Linked DNA regions of Homo sapiens: all the other regions are linked to region 2. Evidence: fine-mapped expression QTL. A gene starts in region 2. Each other region holds a variant in brackets. All regions are shown on one strand. Distances are from middle to middle.

Region 1 (4,063 bases), 27 kb after region 2:
TTGGAAAGGGAAGGTTCTAGAAAGTTCTGGAAAGCTCGGCTGTGGCTGACTCCTGGCTTAGGGCTCAGGCCTGTCTCACCTAGCAATGCAGGGTGAGCCATGTGGGCTGGCTTCTGGGGATGGGGAGGAGAGATACACACATGGAGAAAAAGAGGGAGATAGAGAAGAGAGAGGGAGAGAGAAAAGGAAAGAGAGGAGAGAGGGAAAGGCAGAGAGAGAAACAGAGGGAGAAACACAAAGAGAGGGAGAGAAGGAGAGAGAGACACAGAGAGAAAGGGAGGAACAGAGGAGAGAGAGGGGAGGAGGGGGAGGGAGACAGCACCCTCTTCTCCCTACCCTTGCCTGGGGTCTCAGCTGAGAGAGGGAAGGCTCTGTGCTGGGGAAGAGGCCTCCAGCAGGGAGTAGTGACTGATGAATGTATGATTGCTACTTTATCTCAATAGAGGATTCGAACAGCCCCCAGGCAGGGTCGCATTTTAAATGATGGTTTTGGGTGCTGAGCCAGCCCAGCTTGGAGGGGGTTTCGTTTCACAGATGAGGAGCCTGAGGCTGGGGGAAGCCACTTGCTCAGATGCACACGGCTGGGGCCGGCGGCAGGTTTGCCCGACCTCGAGTCTGCGCTTCTCATCCTGGAAGCGACCGCCTTGTCCCCTGCGCAGCCTCCTTCTCTGGCTCAGCCACGTGGGTTACTACTGAGTTCACTCTTCAGCCCTGGTGGGGGACGGGCAAGAGATGGGGCGTGAGGGGCGGGCGGAGGCAGCGAGGTCTGGGATGAGAGCTTTTCTGGAGCCTTCTCTGGAGTGTGACCCCCTTCCCCGCAAAAAAAAAAAAAAATCTTGGCTCAGCTCTTGGGCTTCGGTGCAGTAGGGGCTTTGTGGCCGATGCAGAGGAAGCCGAGCTCTGCTCCTGGAAGGACGTGGCCCCTTGTCTTACCCAGGCTTCATTTTGGGGCCATCTTTTTAGGTGGTTGAAAATGAGTAACTCATTCTTGACCTTGTGCAATGCCCACGCCCTGTGTCCGGGGCTGACCTGGAGGCTCTGGGTTCTCTGCTGAGCAGAGCTGGGGCCAAGACCACCCCTGGGGAGCGAGGAGCAGGCGCTGGTGTGCCTGGCCCAGGTGGCTTCCCATAAAAGCTGCAGGCAGCCCTGTCTAATGTGGCAGCCCTGGGCCACACGTGGCCACTGGGCATTGAGACATGGCTGGTCTGAGTGAAGATGAGCTTCAGCCTGAAATCCGCACCGGGTTTTAGAGTTAATGCGGAAAGGCGGTATACAATAGCTCACTAATACCGTTGCAAGTTGATATGATATTTTGAATACATTAAGTTAAATAAGATATCGTATTAAAATTATCATAGCTGTTTCCTTCCACTTTTGTAACATAGCTACTGGTACATTTAAGCCTCACGTGGCCTGCATCCTATTTCCACGGGACTGTGCTGCCCGAGCCCCTCCCTGCTGATGAGAAGCAGCCCTCGGGTGGCTTTGGGGTGTGTCCAGAGCCTGTACAGCCTCCCCTTGGGGTGGGGTGCCGCGTGCGGGGTGCCAGGCACCAGCCGGTGCTGAGGCCCCATGTGGAGGCAGCCCTGCATGATGGGCAGCAACCAGTGGGGTGCCATCGTGTGCGGTGACGTGCACACTAAAGAAAGACGCTCAGCTCCCTCCTC[T/C]GCCCCGCCTGGCCGCCAGCTCAGTGCCAAAACCATGGTTAGGGGGTGGGAGGCCACGGGTGCCCTTGGGGACCTACCAGGCCTGCAGGGTCCTTGGCAGAGGGGCAGTGCCTGGCACCAGGAGGACACTGTGCTGGAAGGTCAGCCTGTTCCCACAGCCAGGGATGTGGGGCTCCCAGGTAGCCCCATTCATAGTTATTTGAATTGCTGTGATGGAGGCAGGCGGAAGAGGTGGGACTGCGAGGGAAGGCAGGGGCCCCCCGGGGAGAGAGTGGGTGCCTCCTTCCCTTTCCTCAAAGCCCAACGGCCTTGCAGTGAGACTGCCACTATACAACAAAGAGCCAGCACCGCTGTGCACGCTGGAGTCTCACAGATGAGCCGATTATGTCTTTGTGACAAACACATTATTAGGAGTGAGATGAATTCCTTCTGTGGGCGGGGATGATTCAGAGAGAGGCGTCCCAGCCCCAGGAACAGCCTCCCCGCAAGGTGGCCTCAGCCTCCCCCATGCTCCCCTGGAGGCCGCTCCCTGGCTTGGGGGGTGGGTAACACGGGAGTCCCCCCGACACGGCGAGGTGAGCTCACCTCCTGAGGCTGGCGTGCAGGGAAGTAGGAAAGGGCACACACTGCGACCGGGGACCAGGGACAGGGTCTTCCCCGCTGTGACCTGTGGGGCTGTGCAGGGGGCGGGAGCAGCCCCCATCCCAAAAGGAAATGGGACAGGAGTTGCCAAGAACAGTTCCCCTTACCCTCCAATTCCTCACGGGTTCAGCACTTTCTCTGAGGGGGTCTGGTCTGAATCCCAAATTCAGATTCTGTATTCAACTGTTCCCTTCATTACAAAGAACAAATTTCCGAGCCCAGTAATTCCCGTTTAAATTTGTCAATTTTCATCCCTCGATAGAAATCAGTATGTGGTGATCACAAAAGCCGGGGTATTAGCCCAGTGGACAGTTTGTTCTGAAACTTGTCCCTTCGGGGCAGGGCCTGGGTTAGGAGGCCTGAGATCTGCCTGGAGCCTGGGGTGCCTCGGGCAGGGGCATCGTGGCTGGGGATTCTCTGCACTTGCCCCATGGAGCAGGGCGGGAAGGGAAGCCAGGCTCCTTTCCCTGTCTGGGTCTGGGGCTGCTGCCCTTGGCAGCTGGGGAGACCCTGGGACCCCAGAGGCAGAGCCCCACTCTCTGTACCCTCAGGCGCAATGCCCTGAAAGACAGGCGCCACTTTGTCTTCAGAAAGGCAGGAACCAAACCCCTCTCACAGTTCCAGAAGCTTCCCTGAGTCCCAGTTTAGACGCAGAATCTCCTCTGTGGATCACTCCAACTGGGGAACCAGGAGAGGGGGTTTGGGAGAGGAGGGAAGTGGCTTCCACCTGTGGGTGGGGCAAAGAGAGGGCTCCCAGCTATGCAGGGCGGGCCCAAACCTCCAGCAGAGCCCCTTTCCCAGCGAGGACTCCGAGGACTCCGAGGCCCTGGCCTGTGGCTCCCAGGGAACAACCTGGACCCTCAGCATAGGACCCGCAAGCTGAGACCCTCCTCTGTTTTACTGCTTCATTTTCCATCTGTGACCAGGGCCCAGGCCACATGCACACACCTGGCGTAGGAGTTACTTCGTGATGTGTTTGGCTGTGTCCCCACCCAAAATCTCATGGGAATTGTAATCCCCATAATGCCCCGTGTCAAGGGCAGGACCAGGGGGAGGTGACTGGATCGTGGGGGCGGTTCCCCCAGGCAGTTCTTGTGAGAGTGAATCTCATGAGATCTGATGGTTTTAGAAGCGTCTGGCGTTTGCCCTGCTGTCACTCACACCGTCCTGCTGCCCAGTGAAGAAAGTGCCTGCTTCTCCCTCCACCATGATTGTAGGTCTCCTGAGGCTCCCCCAGCCCTGCAGAACTGTGAGTCAATTCAACCTCTTTCCTTTATAAACTACACAGTCTCGGCAGTTCTTTAGAGCAGTGCGAAAATGGACTCACACACTTGGCCTGGGCCCAGTCTTTCCCGGATGGATGGTGCGATGATCAGCCCCGTGTTCGTGAGGACGGGGCCAACCCAGACCCACCTGGAGTTGTAAAGTTTCATCAGCACTCAGCCCCACCTGCTCATGTACGTACTGCTATGGCTGTGTTGGCCACAGCGGCCACAGTGAGTGGTTCTGCTCAAAAGTTGAGATCCTCCGGCCCACGAAGCCACAGTGACTCACTCTCTGGACCTTCACAGAAAGCATTCACCCACCCCACCCTAGGATGCGTGTCCAGAGGTGAAATGGCTCCCTCCGTGCAGTCGGAGAGCCCCTTGACTCACGGCTGCACCCCTGCTCATCAGGCACAGCGGCAGGCACGTGACCTCTGTGGGGCCACTTGTCCTACTTGCAGGGAGGGGCCGAGCATGGGATGCAGCATC
Region 2 (4,063 bases):
AGCAATCCCAGCACTTTGGGAGGCCAAGGCGGGTGGATCACGAAGTCAGGAGATGGAGACCATCCTGGCTAACATGGTGAAATCCTGTCTCTACTAAAAATACAAAAAAATTAGCGCCTGTAGTCCCAGCTATTCGGGAGGCTGAGGCAGGAAAATGGCGAGAACCTGGGAGGCGGAGCTTGCAGTGAGCCAAGATCGCGCCACTGCCCTCGAGCCTGGGTGACAGAGCGAGACTCCATCTCAACAAATAAAAAAAATAAAAAAATAAAAAAACCTGTGTACTTAACTGGTGAATCGTGTCTTCCAGAGGACAAATCTGGCCTACTCCAGCCTATTCTAGTTGGATGGAACACCTCACCTCACACCCGACAGCCCATTCGACCTCGTTCATTCCCCGTGGAGACCCATCAGTAACAGCCCTGCCCTTCATTCAGCCGCTATTCCCATTTTACAGACGACTCAATCGAGGCACAGAGACGCTAAGCACACTCGCCCAAATGTGAAGTAGCAGGGCCAACATTCAATCCTATCTACTGGCTTCCAGCAAAGGGATCACTGGCGTTTCCTTTGATGCCAAGATTTCTAAGCTCTGATGTTTGTGAGCTGCAGCCCCCTGACAAGAGTATCAGGCTCCGGTTGAACAGAGAAGTCCAAAGCAGGGCGAGAACGGACGAATAATCACAGAGTCCCGCTGCCAGCCACCGGCTCAGAAGCCTTGAATTCTCCTAGCTGGGCGGGCCCGGGAGGGGGTTCCTCAGCCTCCCGCTTCCCTCAACACCCTGCGACCCCCGCCCCAGCCTGCCCAGGTTTCCTGCTCCCAGCACAGCAGGTGCAGCCAGCCATGTGCACAAAGGCCAGGCTGGTTCCCTGGGCTGCACTCGAGCAGCTCCTCCCAGCCCTGCACACATGGGGCAGCAGCTCTACCCAACCTCTCCCAGGGGTTCTGGGGAGGAGGGAGCAGGGGAGGGGGCGGGGAGGGCCCAGAGAAGGGACAGTAGTGCCCTGGGGGCCCCTGGGCAACCCAGACATGGAGGGGGGGGCAAGCTTGTGCCTGGCCACCTATGCCAGTGCCACCAGGTGCTGGGGGGGACACGGAAAGGACAGGAATCTTGCCCTCACCTGGCTCCCGAGCCAGGGGCCGGGGCACCCTGTGAGGACACTCAGAGGGAGGGAGTGTGCAAAGCCTGCAGGGCCTGGGAGGATGCGTGCTGGGGCTGCCTCTCCCAAATCCTGCTGGGGCGCAGGCTCTCAGGGTGGCTTCTGATGACAAATCCAGGCAGTAATAAGGGGCCCAGGGCATCACATCCCATAGCGTCATGAGACCAGCCCAGGGTGCCAGATGCAGGGCCCTGAGTGGGGAGGGTGCTGCTCTGGGCACCTGCTTTCTGCCCTCCCTCATTCACCCCTCCCCAGACTTTGATGAAACCATCTGTGGCTCCCGGCCTCTGCAGGACCCAGCCCCTCAGCTCCTCAGCCCCTGCAGGTGTCCCTCGGTACTGCCTCACGCCATCCTGCCCCAGGTGATAACTATGCCCTGAGCCCCCACCATTTCCACTGGGCACATCCCAGAAATACGCATTCACAGACCAGGCACGCCCATGACTGCGGCCAGATTTTAAAAGGAATCACCAGAAATGTAATCTCCAGTGGTCCTAGAGCCCCCTGGGCACCCAGCTTCTGGCACCCTGTGGACACCCAGGAGTGGGGGTCGGCCCAACCAGCTGCGCAGCCGCCCAGCCCTGCCAGCGGGGAGCTTCCTCCCTCCCTGCCCTCCGGATACACCCTCACCCCAACTGAGCGAGCCCAGGGTTGGGGGAGGTGCATAGTTCCCTTCCTAGCCGGTGCGAGAAATTGCGGAGAACAGGGAAGAGGGTGGCAGGAAGGGTCTGGTGCACGATACCCGCCGCGCCCGCTCGGAATCCTGGTTCCCTGGAGCGCTCACCCCAGCCCGCCCTGCCCCGGGGAGCGCGAGGGGGCGACCCGCCAGGCTGCACCCGGGCGGGGCGGGGATGGCGGCGGGGGCTGCCTCCCTCCTCCGCCGCCACCCCCCACTGCTGGGCGCGCCGCGCGGCCGCCGGCTCCGTGGAGACGCGCAGAGCCGGGAGGGCGCGGGCGCGGCGGGAGGTGTGCGGGGCTGGGGTGCGCGGAGAGCGCGAGGGAGGAGATTCTGAGCGAGGGAGGGGAGCGCGCCCGGGCAGCAGTGCGTGCGCTCCTCCCGGCGCCACAAGCTCGCCCCGCGCAGCCCGAGCCGGGCTGGGCGCTGTCCTCGGGGGCCTGGGGAACCGCGCGGTTTGGAGATCGGAGGCACCTGGAACCCGTGGCAAGCGCCGAGCCGGGAGACAGCCCGAGGAACCACGGGTTCTGGAGCTAGGAGCCGGAAGCTGGGAGTCCGGAGGAGAGCGGAGCCCGGAGCCCGGAGCCCGGGGCGGCGCGTCTGGGTCTGGCGCTTCCCGACTGGACGGCGCGCCCGCTGGTCTTCGCCACGCGCCCTCCCCTGGGCTCCCGTTCATCGGTCCCCGCCTGAGACGCGCCCACTCCTGCCCGGACTTCCAGCCCCGGAGGCGCCGGACAGAGCCGCGGACTCCAGCGCCCACCATGCGCCTCAACAGCTCCGCGCCGGGAACCCCGGGCACGCCGGCCGCCGACCCCTTCCAGCGGGCGCAGGCCGGACTGGAGGAGGCGCTGCTGGCCCCGGGCTTCGGCAACGCTTCGGGCAACGCGTCGGAGCGCGTCCTGGCGGCACCCAGCAGCGAGCTGGACGTGAACACCGACATCTACTCCAAGGTGCTGGTGACCGCCGTGTACCTGGCGCTCTTCGTGGTGGGCACGGTGGGCAACACGGTGACGGCGTTCACGCTGGCGCGGAAGAAGTCGCTGCAGAGCCTGCAGAGCACGGTGCATTACCACCTGGGCAGCCTGGCGCTGTCCGACCTGCTCACCCTGCTGCTGGCCATGCCCGTGGAGCTGTACAACTTCATCTGGGTGCACCACCCCTGGGCCTTCGGCGACGCCGGCTGCCGCGGCTACTACTTCCTGCGCGACGCCTGCACCTACGCCACGGCCCTCAACGTGGCCAGCCTGAGTGTGGAGCGCTACCTGGCCATCTGCCACCCCTTCAAGGCCAAGACCCTCATGTCCCGAAGCCGCACCAAGAAGTTCATCAGCGCCATCTGGCTCGCCTCGGCCCTGCTGGCGGTGCCTATGCTGTTCACCATGGGCGAGCAGAACCGCAGCGCCGACGGCCAGCACGCCGGCGGCCTGGTGTGCACCCCCACCATCCACACTGCCACCGTCAAGGTCGTCATACAGGTGAGCCTCAGTAACCAGCCCCGGGGCTCCCCTCTCCTTCACCCCAAAAGCAGTGCCAGTGGTGTGCCTTCTGGGTAGGGAGTGGGAGAGATGTCACAGAGACAGTCTACTCCTGCGAGGCTGGGAAGGCGGTTGGGGCAGCTTGGGGGCAGCTCCAGAGTTGCCAGGCTCAGCCCCTATCTTCTTCCCTCCTGTTGAGGGGATGGAGCCCCTGCCTGTGACCTCTCTGGTGTTGGTGGCTGGGCCTCGGACATCTCTGAATTCCTTAAGCCTAATGGAAACATGTGCGCTGGCACCTGCGTCTCCAAAGGAAGAGTAACACTTTCATCAGCTTCTCAAAAGACTGTGCCACCAACAGGTGATGTTCCTTCCTCTGCAGAGAAGCCCCCAGACTGGCTCTGCCGGTGCCTCCCAGCTGCCTGCCCTGACCCAAACTTGGGAGTCAGAACAGAACCTGATGCCGTGTTGGGCCAGTTCCTAGTTTAGCCTCAGCTTTCCCATCTGTGTGATGGGGTAGTGATAGCATTGACCTCAGAAGGTAGAGCATTGGAGAGAGGACGCGTGGGAAGTGTTTGCATGGCCCCTGACACATAGAAGGGCTCACAGGCACTATTATTGCGGGATGGTGGGGACGATGTTTCTGCGGGGAAGGTTGTGAGGATCTGCGTGTGGCGGCGGTGTTGTGGTGAGGTGTGTAAAACTGGAGCCGAGTGACTAAGGGCCCTCCAAGGGTCTGAGCAAAGCGCCGTGGGAA
Region 3 (4,063 bases), 37 kb after region 2:
GCGTCATGCCATGGCGACCAGCCCCAAAGGGTGAGCCTTTGAGTTGTTCACCAATCATTGGGGTTTCGAACAAGCCTGTGCTGACGGCCCTGGCACACAGGGTTTCTGAATTAACTCTGCCATCGTTCCTGGCCTCAGCTGTGGTGGGGAAGGCAGTTCGGGGTCATGAGAACCCTGAGGGTTGCTCCCAAGTCAGTGTTTGCTGGGTCTAGTGGGGGCCTCTCCACCTGGAGTCTGTCTGGGAGGTTAGAAAAGACCGTCCGTGAGCCTGGGCCCTGCTGGGGCTGGTCATCTGCTCAGGGAGAGGGCGATCCCCTGCCAGCCCAGCAAGGCCACCCCAGCGGTCACCCCCTTGGGAGGGTGTGGACAGGAGCCTCCCCTCCCACCCGCCCCGCAGCCTCTGCAGCCATCTTACAAAGCCTCTGGGTTCTGCAAAGCAAAAGGGTTTTGCACCTTCCCACTCAGCACAGGCTGGCTGCGGAGCCGGGAAGCAGTGTGCCAGTCTGGGGCTGTCTCTTGATCTAAACACAATGGGATGAATTAGAGAGAAAGGCAGAATACAAAACAAGCAATTGCTCTCGAAGAGCGAGGTGAGAACGCCCTGCCTGAGGTCGAGGGGCTGAGGCCGGCTGTCTGGAGCCTGTGTCGGGGGCACCCTCCTGCTGTCTGGCTGTGCCCTCACCTGTGGGCAGGCATACCGTGTGCACCCCTCCCGCTCCCCACCTGGTCTCCACGGCCAAGCTCAGACCAACCACCCAGAGGCTGCGCCCCGGTCCAGATCCCCCTAACACACCTGCTGTTTCATTATCTAACCTTTCACTCCACCTCCGTCCTCCCCATCAAAATTACACATGCGAGGGGGCAGAGGCCAGGCTGTCCCTCCCATAGGTCCAGCCCCACCAGCCGTCGCCCCAGCGTGTCCCATCCCAGCCTCCCAAGCCGCAGTCCTGTGCCCCCCAATTTGCTTCCTTTCCCACACCCAAGGGAGCACAGTCAGTGCTCCAGGAACTGAGGCAGCACCTCTAGGCTCGCTCTTTTAGAAATGAGGCTGAGGGGCTGGACGCAGTGGCTCGTGTTTGTAATCCCAGCACTTTGGGAGGCCGAGGTGGGCGGGTCATGAGGTCAGGAGATCGAGACCATCCTGGCTAACATGGTGAAACCCTGTCTCTACTAAAAATACAAAAAAATTAGCCAGGCATGGCGGCGTGCACCTGTAGTCCCAGCTACTGGGGAGACTGAGGCAGGAGAATGGCGTGAACCCGGGAGGTGGAGCTTGCAATGAGCTGAGATCACACCACTGCACTCCAGCCTGGGTGACAGAACAAGACTCCGTCTCAAAAAAAAAAAAAAATACAAAATTAGCCAGGCATGGTGGCACATGCCTGTAATCCCAGCTACTCAGGAAGGCTGAGGCAGGAGAATCACTTGAACCTGGGAGACGGAGGTTGTGATAAGCAGAAATCGCGCCACTGCACTCCAGCCTGGGCAACAAGAGCAAAGCTCAGTCTCACAAAAAAAAAAGAGAGAAATGAGCCTGAGGCCCAGGAGGACCTGCCGAGCTCACAGCTGGCCAGGGA[A/G]CAAGCCAGGCCCCCACTTCTGGCACCAAACCCCAGGCATTCGGCTGCTTCTGAGAGGCTTGAGGCCCTACCAACCACTCAAACGCCATTCCCAGACCCAGACAGGGCTAGGAGGCAAGGGGTAGCAGCTGAGGGGTGCACACAGCAGAGGATACTGCCAGAAGCACGAATGAGATTCCCATGGAGGCAGCCCCACCTCCAGACCACCACGGCTGTCACAGCAGACACCCCTGTCTCCCACCATGACCTTCTGCTCTGGAACATCCACCCCTAAAACCTCAGACCCAGCCACTGAGGCCCATGGCCCAGAGCCCAGCTACCCAGCCGGCTCCAGGGAGGGTGGCCCAGCCAGTTCCTGCCACCTGAGGATGTTGGTACACACACCAGACTCAGAGGGAGACCCAGACAGACAGCAACACAAAGACAGAGAGAGAGACACAGAGAGGAAAGCAGAGACACAGAGAGACATGGAGAGAGACACAGAGACAGAGAAACAGACACATAGAGGAAAACAGACACAGGGAGACACAGAGACAGAGATACAGAGACACAAGAAAACAGAGACAGAGATAGAGACAGAGACACAGAGATATAGAGATAGAGACACAGACTCAGGAAAACAGACAGAGAGAGACACAGGAGAACAGAGACACAGAGATACAGAGATAGAGACACAGGAACAACAGAGACACACAGACAGAGACAGACACAGGAAAACAGTGAAAGACAGAGACACAGAGGAAAACACACAGATATACAGAGAGAGACACAACAGAGACAGACACAGGAAGGAAAACATACAAGGAGACAGAGACACAGAAAAACACAGAGAAAAACACAGAGACATCACAGGAGAAAGATACAAAGACAGACAGAGACACATATTCTGCCTCGCCTCCAAATCCAGCTTGGCGTGGACCTCGCTGGGACTGGATGGCCTTCTCTACAGCTGCTGAACAGCCTCGCCGTCCCCAGGGCTTCCCTGCTGTTGGCCATGACCCTCCCCTGCTGCTTGGAATTGCAAAGCCAGGCGGTCTGGGAGTCCCAGCCACCACGCGTCCCCCAGAATATTCATGGGGCTGGGCCAGGTGACTCCCTGCTCTCTTTAGAGACAAATCGAAAGGCGCCAGGGTGCTGTGGCATCAGTGGCGCTGAGGCATCCTCTGGCCGGCCCTGCATGGCCTTCAAGCTGCTTGAGTCCATTGGACAAAGTCCCTCAAGGCCACCCTATGTGGCCAGGGCTGAGACGCCTAGAGAGGTAGACGCTCAGCCTGGGCAGGGACGGGGGCCACACTAGCAGAGGTCAGAGAAGGGGTCAGCCAGGGGGAAGGTCAAGGCTGCCGCCCGGCGGGTCACCACCAGGCCCCCACACTACCCCAGCCTGGCCGTCTGCTTCCTGTTCAGTTCTCACCCCCTGAGTTCTCAGGTCTGTGAGTTTGCTGGACCGTCTGCCAGGAGAGCTTAGGGTCCCTGTAGGCTTGTGGGTGCCATCAGGTCAGAGATGAGAAGTCACCTCCAAGCAGAGGCCTTCCCGGAACCCCCAGCACTACTGCAGCCAGGCTGCCGCCAGCATCGCTGTGTCTGTAGCTCTTATTGGCCCTGAAGTCACTGCAGGTGGTTCTTTCAGTGGTCTCTCCTCCCCAGGATCCAAGACCTCTGACGGCAGGGGCTCCTATGGCTTCTCCAAGGCAGTGATGTTTGTGGGAGGGAGGAAGGGAGAAAGGTGGAGGGAAGCTAGACTAACCAAGAAAAAAGAGAGAAGACATAGCTAAAATCAGATATGAAAGAGGAGACTTTACAAGATGCCACAGAAATCAAAAGGATCATAATAAACTGTGAACAATTTTATACAAACCAGCTGGACAGCCTGGAAAAAATGGATACATTCCTAGAAACTCACAAGCTTCCTAGAGTCAATCGCGAGAAATGGAAAATCTGAAAGGACCAATAACAAAGAAGGAGATTGAATCAGTTACCAAAAACCTCCCAAAAAAGAAAACCCCAGGGCAGGGCCAGGTTGCTTCGCCGATGGATGCTACAAACATTTAAAGAAGAATTAACACCAGTCCTTATACAATTCCGAAAATGTGAAGAGGAAGGAACACTTTCTAACTCATCTTACAAGGTCAGCATTACCCTGATACCAAAGCCAGAGAAGGACGCTATGAGAAAAGAACCAAGAGGCAAAAATCTTCAACAAAATACTGGCAAACTTCATTCAACAGCATGTTGAAAGGCTCATCCACCATGAGCAGGTGGGATTTATCCCTGGGATGGAAACACAGTTCAGCACATATGAATCAGTAAATGTGATCCACCACATGAACAGAAGGAAGGACAAGAGCCATTTGATCATCTCATTTGATACAGAAAAAGCATTTGACAAAACTCAGCATCCTTTCATGATAAAAACACTCAACAAACTGGGTGTTGAATGCATGCTACACAATAAAGGCCACGTATGACAGACCCACAGCTAACACCAC

The links.
Region 1: its variant is fine-mapped to the expression of NTSR1 in cerebral cortex (GTEx, PIP above 0.99).
Region 3: its variant is fine-mapped to the expression of NTSR1 in whole blood (TOPMed, PIP above 0.99). The same link has a PIP of 0.9 or more in T cells, blood mononuclear cells and macrophages.

The regions. Positions count from the first base shown.
Region 1 is chr20:62,733,482-62,737,544 of GRCh38, forward strand. The region is part of intron 1 of NTSR1 (neurotensin receptor 1); the gene reads left to right. NTSR1-AS1 (NTSR1 antisense RNA 1) reads right to left here and starts at 1,878. Exons shown (of 2, transcript NR_199009.1): 1 at 1,745-1,878. RefSeq lists an enhancer at 1,302-2,147. The variant T/C (reference allele first, on the strand shown) is at 1,668.
Region 2 is chr20:62,706,613-62,710,675 of GRCh38, forward strand. It overlaps NTSR1 (neurotensin receptor 1), which reads left to right and starts at 2,224. Exons shown (of 4, transcript NM_002531.3): 1 at 2,224-3,309. The coding sequence starts at 2,596. RefSeq lists enhancers at 1,188-1,701, 1,702-2,214, 2,424-2,970, 2,971-3,515.
Region 3 is chr20:62,743,219-62,747,281 of GRCh38, forward strand. All of the region lies in intron 1 of NTSR1 (neurotensin receptor 1), which reads left to right. Among named protein-coding and RNA genes, the nearest start is that of NTSR1-AS1, 9.9 kb to the left of the region's middle. The variant A/G (reference allele first, on the strand shown) is at 1,578.